Regions from separate parts of the Homo sapiens genome. Here region 2 is linked to region 1. A link means that fine-mapping ties the variant in region 1 to the expression of a gene that starts in the linked region. Tissue or cell type: sun-exposed skin. Region 1 holds a variant in brackets; the other region holds the start of a gene. All regions are shown on one strand. Distances are between the middles of the regions.

Region 1 (8,122 bases):
AGAGAGCTATATGGCCCATGGGCCCCTCCCATGCAAGCAGGCGGGCATGGGGCATTGGGATCCCTGCCCACACTCCAATCCTGGGGGGCTCTTGCTTCCTGGGAGGCCTGTTGTTATGCTGGATATCCCTGACTGTGGGATGGTACACTTGCATTCACCTCACACCTCACCCGCTGAGGCTTCTCTAGGTCCCAAGCATCTCCTCTGGAGCTCTCAGACAGGCCACAGGGTCCATTAAGTTCCTATCTGCACATGGTCACTCTCAGTTGAGACCTTCTGGTCCTGACTCAGGGAACTCCAGCCCTCAGCCTCACCCCAGCCAATCCATAGGCCACTCTCCTGGCCCATATTCCTTTGGGTGTGAGGCACAAAAGGAGACACAGCACCAAGGTCTAGGGAGGGCCAAGGAGGTGTGTTAAGGCTCTGTTCCTGCTTCCCCACAGCCCCAGCCCCATTGTACTGGGCACAGGGCCTGGCTGGGCAGAGATGTCATTGGTACATTTCCCATGGATAGTCTTCCACCTTCCAGCCCATTTCTCCTCCTTCTATGCCCCCTACTCAACTCTTCTCCTTGTGCTCCTGGTCCTTGTAGAATAGGATGGGATATCTCAGCTTCTCCTAACCAGGCAGAGCTCTATCAAGCCCTAGGCAGACATCAGCATTTGCGGGCAGCTGACCTCAGAGAAATGCAGGCCCTGGACCAGGGTCACATAGCTAGTTGGAGACAGACTGTCACCCCAGCTCAGGCCCTTGCCTACTCTCCTGGCAGAGCAGAACAGGCAGCCAGCCTCAGGAGAAATGTGAGGCTGCCAGAGATGTAAGATAAAAGTAGCAGAGAGAAGTTCCACTGGCTGGTCGCTGGGTCGGGGGGTCCATGCAGCCTGGGCCCACCTCCTCCAAGACACTCTATCCAGCTCCCACAGTCATTCTTCCTCCTGTCCCAGCTCCAGCTGGAGCCCTGCCATCAGCCAGCTGCAGCTATGGCAGCCACCCCCTCACCCTCTTGTAGCACTGATAAGCACGCTGGGAAGGGGGATTGTCTTCATTTCATAGATTGGAGGGCTGAGGCCAGGAAATGATTTGAGGACTGAAAGTAAATTAGCCGAGACTGGAAGTCAGGTTTCTAACATTTAATCTCCACTTAGGGAATTGGAGGTCAGAAATGAATAAAATACCATGCCCCAGTAGGCTCCAGTCTAGGGAAGTGGGCAGCAGGCAGAAACCAAGACACAGAAAGCAACGACACATAACAGATATGCTATGATACAAATGGTGCTGCAGGAGCTGCACAGTTCGGAGGCCATTTCTGGCCAGAGGATGGGATGCGTGAAATCCAGGAAGGCTTCCAGGAAGGAGTAGCTGGCACTGGGATGGGCAGGAACAGCAATGTCTCTACTGATGGTTTCATTGGAGAAAGCTGGCAAAGTTGAGAAGTTTGGAGACTAACCGTGACAAAATTTAAACATCAGGTATGTGAAGGCAAGGGGGACCAACTGTGACAAAATGTAAACGTCAAGTGTGTGAAGTCAAAGGGGAACCAGGAAAGTAAAAGAGTGACAATCAGCAGTGCTTTTGGCAAAAAGGCCTCTGGCAGCAGTGTAGAAGAGAAACGCAGAGATCACAGGTATAAGAATGACAGTAGGAGAGGGGAGGAGGGTACATATTTCAGAGGCATCACAGGGGGGTGTACTGATAGGACGGGGGCCTGCTTGTATGAAGGTGAAAGAGGAGGAGGGAGAGTGTCTCTGGGAGATGGGGTGAATGGTAGTGTTCTGAGCAGAGAGAGCAGGGAAATCAGGAGGAGGAGTGGTTCAGGGAAGAGGCAGGGGTTCAGATGCCAAGTTCTGCATTGGCCAAGCTGAGTCAGAGGTGCTGGGAGACTCCCATGTGGGTCTGGGGATAGAAGAAAGCTCTGAGTTCAGCAATGATCATGGAAACCAAGGGAGGGTTGACAGCACCCTGAGGTGGGGGAGACATGGGCACTGAGGAGGGATCTTGAATGATTCCTACATTAAAGACATCCTGACTGGGCACAGTGGCTCATGCCTGTAATCCCAGAACTTTGGGAGGCCGAGGAGGCCGGCCAAAATGGTGAAACGCCGTCTCTACTAAAAATACAGAAACTAGCCGGGTGTGGTGGTGCGCACCTATAATCCCAGCTACTCAGAAGCCTGAGGCAGGAGAATTACTTGAACCCGGGAGGCAGAGGTTGTAGTGAGCCAAGATCACACCACTGCACTGCAGCCTGGGCAACAGAGTGAGACTCTGTCTCAAAAAAAAAAAAAGGTATCATTTCTCTAGACCTGTGCTATCCAATAGGGCAGCCACCTGCCACACACGGCAATTAAGCACTTGGAATGTGGCTAGTCTGAACTGGGAAGAACTGCAAAAGTACAGTACATACCAGACTTTGAAGACAGGATGAAAAAGGGAAGGTAAAAACTATTACGTTAAAATTTTTAATAGTGATCACGTTGAAATGCCAATATTTTGGATATATTGGATTAAGTAAAGTATATTATAAAAATGAATTGTTTCATTTTACTTTTTAAAAATGTGTTTACCAGGAAACTAAATTAGCTGGGCAAGGTGGTAGGTGCCTGTAATCCCAGCTACTGGGGAGGCTGAGGCAGGAGAATTGCTTAAACCCAGGAGGCAGAGGTTGCAGTGAGCAGAGATCGCACCGCTGCACTGCAGCCTCGGCGACAGAGCAAGACTCTGTCTCAAAACAAACAAACAAAACCAAAAAACCCCACTACTCATGTAGCTTGCTTCATATTTATGTTGGATGACACTGTTCTAGAACCTGAATTCCATAGGATGTGGGATAAGTGTTGCTGAAAAAACTAAAGCAAGCTGGGAGAGTGGAGGCTGATGTTTGCAAGATGCCATGTTACTCGTGTCTGGGGGGAACCAGTCTCTGTACTCAGGACTTCTCAAGGCAGGCATCATCTCCCAAACCAAGTTGCCCACAGATACTCCCCCTTCCTCTGGACTTCCTGTGAGAGGAGGGTTCGGCAGAACCCACTCTGAGAGATGGTATTTTAAAGAGAATGATAAGCCTGTCAGATGACTAGGCGGGGAGAGAGCGAGGACAGGCAGAACAGAGGTAGGGGGTGCCACAGGACCAGAGGGAGGGGTGGCCAGTGGGGTCTTGGGGCTGCAGAGGGGTGAGAACAGGTGAGAGATGCAATAGAACTCCTCTGGCCAGGTTTGCAGCTGGCTTGGCCAAGCTCACTCTGTAGGATGCAGGCGGTAGCGGAAGCGCACATCGTGGCTGGGCTGCATGGTGCCAAAACCCCAGCGCTGCGGGTCAACATGGGGTAGTGGTGTGTCAGGGTCCACCAACTCTAAGTCAAAGTGTGTGACCATAAGCAGGATAAAGAGCTTCACCTCACTGAGTGCAAAGAACCTCCCAGGGCAGATGGAAACGCCCGAACCCCAGGGCATGGTGTAGTGGTGGATCTTCTTGCCTGTCTTGAAGAAGTCCACTTTCCGGCTGCCATTAGGGTTGAGGAAGCGATCGTACTTGAAGACGGTGGGCTCAGGGTGGATGTCAGGGTCCATGTGCACTGAGAGGTAGGGAAAGAGGGCCAGGATGTCTCCATGGCGGAACAGATACTCCTGCCCACTGGACATCTTCAGGGTATAGTCTTCATGAACCAACCTGAGGAGGGTGGGTGCAGCCCTCAGCCGCAGCGTCTCCTCCACCACGCTGTCTAGAACTGGGGTGTGTTGCAGGGCACCGAGTTTGAAGGCAAAGGACTGCTTGGTCTCCAGCCTGGCCTCACCCAGGACCTGGGTAGCTTCCTCCCTCACAGCCCGAATAGCTTCTGGGTGCTTCAGGAGGTACAAGAGGGCCCAGAAAGAGGTAGGCCCCGTGTTCCCCTGGGAGGCCCAGAGCATCATGAAGTTGAACTTGTCCTGCATAGCTGAGGGTAC[C/A]CCCTGCTCCCTCAGAAACTGAAGCATGTTGCCCAGCCAGTTGCTGATGCCCTCCTTCTCCTGGCTGTGGCTCACGGAGAGCATCTTGTGAAAGAGACGCTGGAGTCGGCCCACTTCTAGCCACTCCCGGGGCCACAGCAGGGAGTAGACAAACCTTGGGAAAAGAAGGTCAAACTTGCGGAACTCCATGAATAACTCTCCTGCCTGTAGCAGGTCCTGCTCCTTGTCCTTCGTGTAGCCGAACAAGCTCAGGTAGCCAGCTGTGAACAAGATGTAATAGCAGAAGCGAAAGAGGCTGTCCTCATGCCAGCAACTGGCATCCAGACTCCAGCCTTTGGACGTCAGCATTACAAAGGACAGGCTGTCCAGCATGGTCTCATTAAGATCCTTCAAGCCATCCCCCCTCAGATGCTTGGTGCTGGCTGAGTGTATCATCTCATGGTCCCCTTGCACTGAACGGTATCCAAATACCTTCAGCACCAGTTTTTTTGCATATTGCCCAAAGTCTAGTTTTCTCTGTGTGTCCTTGAGGATGGAGCCAAAGGAGAGGGGGTCCATGACGAAGGTGAAGTACTGGCCCCCTAGCTGCACTGTGAACACATCCCCATGCTTGGTCCTCATGCGCTTCAGAAATTCAAACATATTCTTCCGGAAAGCCATGGCATGGCCAAGCCAGGGCACGGTACCCTTGTCCAGAGGGGGCTCCCATGGCCTGCGTTGTCGGAGCATCCCTGGCAGGCACAGGTATCCAGCAATGACCACCAGCAGAGCTCCCAGCACTGGACCCCAGAGAACCATGGCTATGCTCCTGCGGATTAAGCTCTCGACACGCACACTGTTCCCTGGGTGCCAGAGAGCTTTGGGAGGCCTTGGAAAGTCCAGGATGTAAAGGTCTGAGCACCTGGACCTTGCCCTGTGGCCGCAAGTTATGGCAAATAACACTAGTGAGACAGTACTTGGAAGCAGCAAAATGTTCCCCTGGACTTAACACTTGGCTGACTGGTCACGTAGGGGAGGAGGAGGTAACCAGGAGAAAGCTCAGAGAGAAGCTTCCAGCTATGGTCACAGCTGCTCACCAGCTTCATGCTTTGCTCTGACCTTTTCAGACAGCTCTTGCACCTTCTCTCTAAGCCTGCCTTGAGCCCACTCCCACCCCCATAGCTGACAGACTATTTATACCCCCATTTACTCATGCTTTTATTTATTTGCCAGTTCAGTTGGTAGAAATGAATCAAGCACTTACAAAATCTCACTTCCACTCTTTCCTCATCTTTAGAAGACTCAACAAATGCCTCCATTCCTACTTGGCCCCCTTGGTCAAGTAAGTTAACCTCACTGTGGCTCCACTCCCTCATCTGTGAAGTAGGGATAATTACAGTGCCTTGTAGGTGCTGTTGTGAGGCAAAAAGAGATAACACCTGAAAAGCACTTAGAATAGTGCCTGGCTCATGCTAGTGCTCCATATATGTTAGTTAGTATCCTAAAGCCTTTTCTCTTACCTTTGCCTGCTCCCCTGGACCTCACAGCAGCCCGTGCTTATCTCCTCATTCTTTCCCTAGTCTGTCTTCCTCTCTGGTCTCAAAGATGCTTGCCAAGGGGGCATGACCTTGTTGAAGTCATGTCTGCTCCTACCTCCATGTGCACAGAGTACACAGTCAAAGGCAAGTGAAGAATGACTGTATGCCCTTCCACAACAGCTCTGACCCCTAACCCAAAAAAAGAGGCATTGATGCTGGGGCTTTAGATGCTGAGAAGGCTGAGATGGTGGAGGGGGTGTTGACTCCATCTTGGGGTATGAGTGTGAATGAACTCATCTGAGGAGGCCACAGAGCCTCCCAGATGATGACTCTTCAAGCAGAGGCTGAGCCCTCAGTCTCTGAGCCTCTCACCCGGAGCCCTCTCACCTGCCCAACTGCTTGCCTATACACTTCTCTGACAAGAAGGCAGAATCCTGGAATTGTAAAATGTCAGAGACAATAGAGACCTCACTCAATCACTTCATACTTCATTTCACAATGAGGATCTAGGTGCAGAACGCAGTGGGGACCCTCTTTGACAGCTGCCCTGGCTTGGGGCCTTGAGATAAGCTAATCATTGACTAAGGGCCTTCTGAGACATGTCAGCCCAGGTCCCTGCCAGCAGCTCAAGAGGGAGAAAACTGTACCATTGACGCCAAGGCATTAGTCAAGCAGCCTGGCCCATTGTTGCTATAGGTGAGGTTCAAACTCAATTCAATCAGTTCTGATAACCTCCAAATTACTTTTTAACTTCCTAACGACCTGAGAACAGGGACTTCGGCTCTTCAGACAAAAGAGGGTATGGAACTTCCATATCCCCTCTGGAGTGAGCTTCCTTTGCCTATGAGCTTCCCCTTGGCAGGGAGTTGGAACTGTCCACACTCTGCTTCCCAGAATCCCTCTTTAATTGTTCAGGACCACCACAGTACTTGGCATCATCAACTCTCCTCAACCTTAGAATTCGGTCTGAAACTGGGCCAAATCCAATGAACTGAACCGTGTCCCCTAGTTTTTAATGGATGAACCATTATTTCACATTCATTCTTACCTCATTCATTAACCCACACTCATCTATTCATTCCCTCCTTCCTTGGAGAAGCCCCATCTATCCATTCACTAGATATTTATTGGGCACTTACTGGCAGAAATGTTGCTACGATCTGGGATTATAATCATGAATGAGATAGACACAGTCCCTGCTCTCTTGCAGTTTATGGTCTAATGGAGGGAGAAAGATATTAAATCACTGCCCAAAGTAATTATACACATATTTCTCATTTAATGTGCTTTGCTTTATTGCACTTCACAGATACTATGTTTTTTACAAATTGAAGGTTTGTGGCAACCCTGCATTGAGGAAAACTATTGGCACCATTTTTCCAACAGTGTGTGCTAACTTTGTGTCTCTGTGTCACATTTTGTAATTCTCACAATATTTCAAATTTTTTCATTATTATCATTACAGCTGTTATGGCGATCTGTGATATGTTAGTACTGTAATTGTTTTGGGGCACCATGAACTGGGCCCATATATGATGCAAACTTAATTGGTAAATGTTGTGTGTATTCTGACTGTTCCACTGACCAGCTGTTCTCCCCTCTTTCTATCTCTCCTTGGGCTTTCCTGTTTCCCAAGACACAGCTATTTTGAAATTAGGCCAATTAATAACCCTACAATGGCATCTAAGTGTTCAAGTGTAAGGAAGAGCTGCGCTTTAAATCACTTTAAATTTCACTTTAAATCACAAGCCAGAAATGATTAAGCTTAGTGAGGAAGGCCAAGATAGGCTGCAATCTAGGTTTGTTGCACTACACAGTTATCCAAGTTGTAAATGCAAAAGAAAAAATTTCTTGAAGGAAATTAGAAGTGCTACTCTAGTGAATACATGAATAATAAGAAAAACAGCTTTATTGCTGATATGAAGAAAGTTTTAGTGGCCTGCATAGATCAAACCAGCTACAACATTCCCTTAGCCAAAGCCTAATCCAGAGCAATGTTTTAACTCTCTTCAATTCTATGAAGGCTGAAAGTGATGAGGAAGCAGTTGGAGAAAAGTTTGAAGGTAGCATAGGTTGGTTCATTAGGTTTAAGGAAAGAAGCCATCTCTATAACATAGAAGTGCAACGTGAAGCAGCAAGTGTTGATGAAGAAGTTGCAGCAAGTTATCTAAAAGATGTAGCTAAGATAATTGATGAAGATGGCTACACTAAGCAACAGATTTTTAATGTAGATGAAACGGCCTTATATTGGAAGAAGAGACCATCTAAGGACTTTCCTAGAGCAAAGTCAATGCCCTGCTTCAAAGCCTCTAAGGGTAGGATGACTCTCTTTTTAGGAGCTAAGGTAGCTGGTGACTTTCAGTTGAAGCCAAAGCTCACGACCATTCTGAAAATCCTAGGGCCCTTCAGAATTATGCTAAATCTACTCTGCCTGTACTCTATAAGTAGCAAGGCTAGGTGTGGTGGCTCGCGCCTGCAATCCCAGCAATTTTGAAGGCTAAGGCAAGTGGATTGCTTGAGCCCAGAGCTTGGAGCCCAGCCTGGGTAACATGGTGAAACCCTGTCTCTACAAAAATTAGCCAGGTATGGTGGTGCATGCCTGTGGTCCCAGCTACTTGGGAGGCTGAGGTGGGAGGATCACCTGAGCCTGGGAGGTTGAGGCT
Region 2 (8,116 bases), 65 kb before region 1:
ATATGGCAAAGAAATATGTTTTGGGGTAAAATATTTTTATTTTCTTCCTTGTCTTATAATGTTATGCCAGAGTCAAGTTGGAAAGTAAGTCACGATATATAGAGTTAAATAAAACCCATTTGATGATAACTTATTATTTGTGGGGCATGACTCCCCAGACCCCTTAGATAGGAATTTGGGCATGATAAAAAAAATCAGAGCTTAGTCCTCAGATGCAAAGCATCTACAACTGCACCATGGAGAAATCTGTGATTAAGTTAGAGTTTCTTGATATAACCACAAAACAAGGCAGACTACCAAGTGCTCGTCATACAGATAGGAACTAAATGTCATGGGCTCAGGATTTTGAAAATCGTTCATCTCATAATTAAGATACATGTAAGAAACATTTCATGCTATGGATGATTAAGAACTTCATACTTCGCTGGGCACGGTGGCTCACGCCTGTAATCCAAGCACTTTGGGAGGCTGAGGCAGGCGGATCACCAGGTCAGGAGATCGAGACCATACTGGCTAACACAGTGAAACCCCGTCTCTACTAAAAATACAAAAAATTAGCCGGGTGTGGTGGCGTGCACCTGTAGTCCCAGCTACTGGAGAGACTGAGGCAGGAGAATGGCGTGAACCCGGGAATCGGAGCTTGTAGTGAGCCAAGATCGCACCACTGCACTCCAGCCTGGGTGACAGAGAGAGATTCTGTCAAAAAAAAAAAAAAAAAAAAAAGAGAGAACTTCATACTTTGATTATATGGTAGCTTTCAGCTCCTTGAAGGCACATATTTTGTCTGGATGATCCTGGTATCTCCTTGAATGCTGCCTGTGTGCTCAATAGAAATTCAATAATGGTAAATGAAGAAAGATGTAAATGCTGCAATAACTGGAGGGTTTAAAAGATAAGTAGGGATAGTCAGGAACTATAGGATAAACCCCACTGCCTTCAATATGAAGGTCAACCGGAAGTCATTAGTCTCTTGATTCTGTAAACACAAAGGCTAATGGCAGCAGTGACCAAAGCATATTCATTTCTGAAGGCAATGTATATGCCTCAAACTAACATCAGCTAACTTGTTAATTTCCAGAGAATAAGATATACTGCCCCATCAGCGGAGAGCAACTAGTTGGCAACATACTAGCCGTGACCTTGGATTTGATTTCTCAAAGTGTCACTTTTTTCACTTGTAAAATGGGGGGTAACATGAATGATGGTTAAAGAGGAAATATATGTAGCATGTTAGCCCCATGCTTGGCATGAAAAATGTTAGCTATTGCTTTAAAAATTCCTTGCTGTGTACTGTGCAAAAAGAGTCAGACCTTGCCCTTGAAGCTGTAAGTATAAGCACCTTTTAAACCAATTACTATTAGGGCTCCCAATCCAGACCCCAAGAGAGGGTTCTTGGATCTCCTGCAAGAAGTAATTCTAGACGAATCCATAGAGTACAGTGAAGGCAAGCTTATTAGAAAAGTAAAGGAATAAAAGAATGGCTACTCTATAGGCAGAATACCCCCAAGGGCTGCTGGTTGCCTATTTTTATGGTTATTTCTTGATTGTATGCTAAACAAAGGGTGGATTATTCATGCCTCCCCTTTTTAGACCATATAGGGTAACTTCCTGATGTTGCCATGGCATTTGTAAAATGTCATGGTGCTGGTGGGAGTGTAGCAGTGAGGATGACCAGAGGTCACTCTCGTCGCCATGTTGGTTTTGGTGGGTTTTAGCTGGCTTCTTTACTGCAACCTGTTTTATCAGCAAGGTCTTTATGACCTGTACCTTGTGCCAATCTCCCATGTCATCCTATGACTTAGAATGCCTAACCTCCTATCTCATCCTGTGACTTAGAATGCCTAACTGTCTGGGAATGTAGCCCAGTAGGTCTCAGCCTTATCTTACCTAGCCCCTATTCAAGATGGAGTTGCTCTGGTTCAATCATCTCTGATGATTGATTGGTATAAAGGTCAAATAGCTAGTAAGTAATAGAGGTAGAGGACTGTAAACTAGGAATTTTGATTCCGCTATATTTTAGGAATATAGTATCGCTCAACAGCAAGTAATTTTTAAGACATAGAAAGGAAATACATTTTTATATATAAGCTGGACTCTATTCATAATATTAAAAAATAAGGATTTAGACAAATTATAGGATGACAGATCCACATAGATAATTTAAGGAAGTTAGATATGCACTCTATGGCTACAACTGTGTGGAAGATGCACATTTGTCCCCCAAAATCTCTTTATTGAGGCTACTGGTATACACTACTTGGTAGAATTGTCATTAGTCTGACCCAGTTTGAATGACGGTTGAATTTAGGAGAAAAAAGTCCCATCTTTCGACAAAAGTGTACCAGCCCTGTCAGTTTAAGGGAGAAAACATAAACAGAGGCAGTGTAGGGGTGGAAAGGGGATGATCCCTTTCTTTCCCATCATAAGCGTTACAGCTAACACTCCTATAACAAAAGACAGGTTAACAAGAGAAAATTACTAGCCTGGACAACATGGCAAAACCCCGTCTCTACAGAAAATACAAAAATTTGCTGGGTGTGATGGTGTGCCTCTGTAGTCCCAGCTACTCAGGAGGCTGAGGTGAGCAGATCACTTGAGCCTGGGAGGTCAAGGCTGCAGTGAGCCAAGATTGTGCCACTGCACTCAGCCTAGGCCATAGAGTGAGACCCTGTCTCAAAAAAGAAAAGATAAAAACAAAACAAAAACAAGAGAAAAACATTATAAATGTACTGTATTTGATCAAGGTTTGTTTTGTTTGTTTGTTTTTGAGACAGAGTCTTGCTCTGTCGCCAGGCTGGAGTGGAGTAGCGTGATCTTGTCTCACTACAACCTCCGCCTTCCGGGTTCAAGCAATTCTCCTGCCTCAGCCTCTCAAGTACCTGGGACTACAGGTGTGTGCCACCACACCTGGCTAATTTGTTGTATTTTAGTAGAGATGGGGTTTCACCACGTTGGCCAGGATGGTCTTGATCTCCTGACCTCATGATCTGCCTTCCTCAGCCTCCTATTGATCAAAGTTTTACATGATGCAGGAGCCTTCAGAGTGAAGACCCAAAGATACAGGTGACTCTGTCTCATTATATGCTTAGGTTTGATGAAACAGGGACAGTCGTGTAGAAATGTGATTGGACAACAAAGGATATGAGCTAATGGTAATAGAAAACCTAGCAAGACCTGTCTGTTCAGATTCTTGAACTTTCTTTCGATTGTAGCATTTCTCCTTTCAGGATACAGTACGGGATCCTTTCTGGAATGGAGGTCTTATGAGCTGCTATTGAACACGGCAGGTGAGAGAATTTCTTTATGGCCAATTCTTAGACAAAAAGTAGGGGAAGCGGTTGGGCACAGTGGCTCACGCCTGTAATCCTAGCACTTTGGGAGGCCAAGGCGGGTGGATCACGAGCTCAGGAGTTTGAGACCAGCCTGACCAACATGGTGATACCCCATCTCTACTAAAAATACAAAAATTAGCCAGGCGTGGTGGCGTGCACCTGTAATCTCAGCTACTCAGGAGGCTAAGGCAGGAGAATTGTGTGAACCTGGGAGGCAGAGGTTGCAGTGACCCGAGATCGCGCCACTGTACTCCAGCCTGGGCAACAAAGCTAGACTCCGTCTCAAAAAAAAAAAAAAAGTTGGGGAAGCTTAGAGGTTCTGGTTTCTGTAATCAGCCTTGGGGAAGAGGAATTCTATTTTCTATGACTTGCTTCAGGAGAGAATGAGGGTATGACAGATAGACAGGAGGGTAAGACAGGTTGGTTAGAAACTTTGCTTCTGAGGCTGCTTCTGAGGCCTTCACTTTGGGGTATCATTTTCTGAGCCCCAACAGCAGGAAAGAATAAATAATAGGAAATTAGAAAACAGTATTGACATAGATATTTCCTGAATTCTAAAGTGATTCATTGTTTAAAAAATAACATTTTATTGGAATTAATTGCAGAATATCTTTCAGTCTGTTGGTAATGCGATTAAGTTGCAGAATATCTTTCAATCTGTTGGTAATGTGATTGGAATGATGAGTTAGGAGTCAACTAACCATTTCAAACAAATTAACTTTTTGTTGAAATTGTTTAAAAAGACTGGGTGTATTGATAAACTGATGTGGGATATGATAAGATTTCTCTTCAAATAATCTGATCAATCTTTTATTCTTTAATTCATAGTACCCCCCCCCAATTTTTCTCCTTTTTCGCCTTTTTTCCTCTTTGCCTTTGTTAAATGCCCAGGCACGCCACAATACCACGTTTTATCAATACCAACTTACATTCCTTTCCTTATTAAAAAAAAGACTAACTTTCTAGCTCATTACAAACACCCTTTCCCCTTTCCCTCCACTTTTTCTTTTACATGCTCACCCTATCTAAAAAAAATCGAATGTTTAGCCAACCAAAATTAGTTTAAATTGTACGACCCGACCACTACCAATAAAAAAAGAATACAAAGGCAAGACTTGCGTCAAAAATAAAGGCCCTCGTGCCCCTTTGTTCAAGTGCGCTCTCATGGCAACTGGCCGAAGAGACACCCCTCTGCGCAAAAGTAAAATTGCTTCATTAAAAATCCTTTGTTCGAGTGTTCAATTTCCTTAAAATTGTAAGGGTGATTCCTAACACCGACTTCATTTCCTCATTCCTTTTTTGAGATAGAGTCTCGCTCTGTTGCCCAGGCTGGAATGCAGTGGTGCAACCTTGGCTCACTGCAGCCTCCACTTCCCAGGCTCAAGCGATTCTCATGTGAGTAGCCGGGATTACAGGCATCTGCCACCACACCCGGCTAACTTTTGTATATTTAGTAGAGATGGGGTTTCACCATGTTGGCCAGGCTGGTCTTGAACTCCTGACCTGAAGTGATCTGCCCACCTCAGCCTCCCAAAGTGCCTGGATTACAGGTGTGAGCCACAGTGGCAGGCCCTCATTTCCTCATTGTTTTGAAACAAGGCACATACATTTTCTGTAGGGAAAAGAAAGATCAGACTGTTACTGTGTCTATGTAGAAAAGGAAGACATAAGAAACTCCATTTTGATCTGTACTAAGAAAAATTGTTTTGCCTTGAGATGCTGTTAATCTATAACTTTAGCCCCAACCCTGTGCTCACAGAAACATGTGCTGTATGGAATCAAGGTTTAAGGGATCTAGGGCTGTGCAGGGTGTGCCTTGTTAACAATATGTTTACAGGCTGTATGCTTGGTAAAAGTCATCGCCATTCTCCATTCTCGATTAACCAGGGGCATAACGAACTGCGGAAAGCCGCAGGGACCTCTGCCCAAGAAAGCCTGGGTATTGTCCAAGGTTTCCCCCAACTGACACAGCCTGAGATATGGCCTTGTGGGAAGGGAAAGACCCAGCCGTCCTCCCCAGCCTGTCACCCGTAAAGGGTCTGTGCTGAGGAGGATTAGTAAAAGAGGAAGGTCTCTTGCGGTTGAGATAAGAGGAAGGCCTCCATCTCCTGCATGTCCCTGGGAATGGAATGTCTCGGTGTAAAACCCGATCGTAAATTCCTCCTATTCTGAGGTAGGAGAAAACCGCCCTGTGGCTGGAGGCGAGATATGCTGGCAGCAATGCTGCTCTGTTACTCTTTGCTACACTGAGATGTTTGGGTGGAGAGAAGCAAAAATCTGGCCTACGTGCACATCCGGGCACAGTACCTTCCCTTAAACTTATTTGTGACACAGATTCCTTTGCTCACATGTTTTCCTGCTGACCTTCTCCCCATTATCACCCTGTTCTCCTGCCGCATTCCCCTAGCCGAGATAGTGAAAATAGTAATCAATAAATGCTGAAGGAACTCAGAGACCGGGGCCTGTGCAGGTCCTCCATATGCTGAGCGCCGGTCCCCTGGGACCACTGTTCTTTCTCTATACTTTGTCTCTGTGTCTTATTCCTTTTCTCAGTCTCTCGTTCCACCTGACGAGGAATACCCAGAGGTGTGGAGGGGCTGGCCCCCTTCAGTTTTCTTTCCCTCAGGGTTGTATAGTGCATAACGGCCCTTGTTTGGCTAGGAGTATTGTAATGGGACTGCATTTGTTGTGCCAAGCCCTTACTGAAACTAATGTGATGGATACAATTTATTTCCTAGATAGTCATACTTTCTAATATTGCTTTATGAGAGAGACAAAGTATAAATGTTTAGGAAAGGTTTAAAGCAATGCATTCTAAATTTTTTTCTGAAGATTGAGTCTCAGTGTTAGGTATTAAAAGGGGCCTTAAAGCTCATCTAGTCCATTTCCTTTCTTTTAATGAAAATACAGTTTTTGAGAATGTAAGTGGATGTTTTAGATGACACACTTACAGGCAGAATCTGAATAACTCTGCCTTCCTGAGAACTAGCCCAGTGCTCTGTTTGCTTGCTTACCTCTCCAGGTCATGGAATCAGACCTCTTAGTATTCCATGCAGCTTAAAACTGAAAACCTTTAATAAAAGTGGTTGGGCAATTTTCAGCCTTTTTTTTTTTTTTTTTTTTTTTTGAGATGGAGTCTGACTCTGTTGCTCAGGCTGGAGTGCACTGGCATAATCTCATCTGACTTCAACCTCCACCTCCCAGGCTCAAGTGATCCTCTTGCCTCAGCCTCCTGAGTAGCTGGGACTACAGGCATGTGCCACCACATCCGGCTAATTTTTTTGTATTTTTAGTAGAGACAGGGTTTCACCTTTTTGGCCAAGCTGGTCTCAAAGTCCTGACCTCAAGTGATCCACCTGCCTCAGCCTCCCAAAGTGCTGGGATTACAGGCATGAGCCACTATGCCCGGCCTTCAGCTTTCTTTTGGTTCTAATCATATATGTGGTAAAGTGATTGATTTAGACAGTTATGTTAATGTGAACAGTGCTGTTAATGTTATTGAATTTGATTAAAATAAAGCTCCATAATTTATTTTATTTTATTTAGCATTAGGGCCTTTGGGACAAAATATGAATAACGAAAGCAAGATAATTTGCAAATAAGAATTAGTCCAAGAGCTATAGTATGTTTTGGGTTTGTTTTTGGGTTTGATTTTGATCTGTTTTTAAATAAGTATGTTATAGTATCTAATATTAACTTAAAATCTTGGTTCAGTTTGCCCTACATAATCTATTCTAAAAATATATGTATTGGTCTGTTCTCGCAATGCTAGAAAGAACTACCTGAGACTGGGTAATTTATAAAGAAAAGAGGTTTAATTGACTCACAGTTCTGCAAGTTGTATAGGAAGCATGGCTAAGGAGGCCTCAGGAAACTTAACAATCATGGTGGAAGATGAAGGGGAAGCAAACCTGTCTTATATGGTGGGATCAGGAGAAAGCAAGTGAAGGAAGAAGTGCTACACACTTTTAAACAACCAGGTCTTGTGAGAACTACTATAAGAGAACAGCAAGGAGAAAGTCCACCCCCGTGATCTAATCACCTCCTACCAGGCCCCTCCTCCAACACTGAGAATGACAATTTGACTTGAGATTTGGGTGGGGACACAAACCATATCATACAAATTCAAGAGTTTGTAACTTGGTACAATGTGCCTTTATTATTTTCTGCATCATGTGCATACTTCACTGGTTCACAGCATAAAGACTGAAAACTGCCATATTTATTAGGAAGTTGTATTTTGTTTTTCAAGCTCTGTTGAGGAATAGATGGAATTTGTTCCATGGTGAGCTGTTTTTAAGTTTTCGCAGTATCATTAATGACCCCAGTCTCATTCTGGGAAACTTGAATTCTCCTTGCAAATTCTAAGAAGTTCACACTTTACCCAAACTTAATGTAATAACGAGAGACAACATCTGTTTATGCCTAGTTATTTGAGGTTTTGTTGCCTGTTTGTGGGAGAAATTCTCTCCTTCTGATTAGTATGCAGAAACTAAAATCTTGGTGAATGATGGTGATAAATATCTGAAACATAATCAGATGATTCAGTCAATTTTTGGTGAAGATTATTCTGCTACACTTTATACCATATCATGTTACAAGAAAATGACAATGACACACTTACATCTTTCATAATACAGACATTATAATTGGTAACAAACATGCAACATCTATTATTCCATTCTTCGTATTGGGCGTCATTTTGAAGTATAATTGATGCAGAAGACTTAACACATTATTTGGGTTTTCAGGTATTAAACCAACCCACCTGTAATTTATAGAAA

What was found. PIP is the estimated chance that this variant, and not a neighbour inherited with it, causes the effect.
Region 2: it holds the start of ACKR2, and the variant in region 1 is fine-mapped to the expression of ACKR2 in sun-exposed skin (GTEx, PIP 0.97).

What each region holds. Positions count from the first base shown.
Region 1 is chr3:42,871,077-42,879,198 of GRCh38, forward strand. CYP8B1 (cytochrome P450 family 8 subfamily B member 1) reads right to left here and starts at 4,803. Exons shown (of 1, transcript NM_004391.3): 1 at 1,116-4,803. The coding sequence starts at 4,740. The coding sequence ends at 3,235. RefSeq lists a silencer at 4,066-4,242. The variant C/A (reference allele first, on the strand shown) is at 3,943.
Region 2 is chr3:42,806,246-42,814,361 of GRCh38, forward strand. It overlaps ACKR2 (atypical chemokine receptor 2), which reads left to right and starts at 3,200. Exons shown (of 3, transcript NM_001296.5): 1 at 3,200-3,287. RefSeq lists an enhancer at 1-79.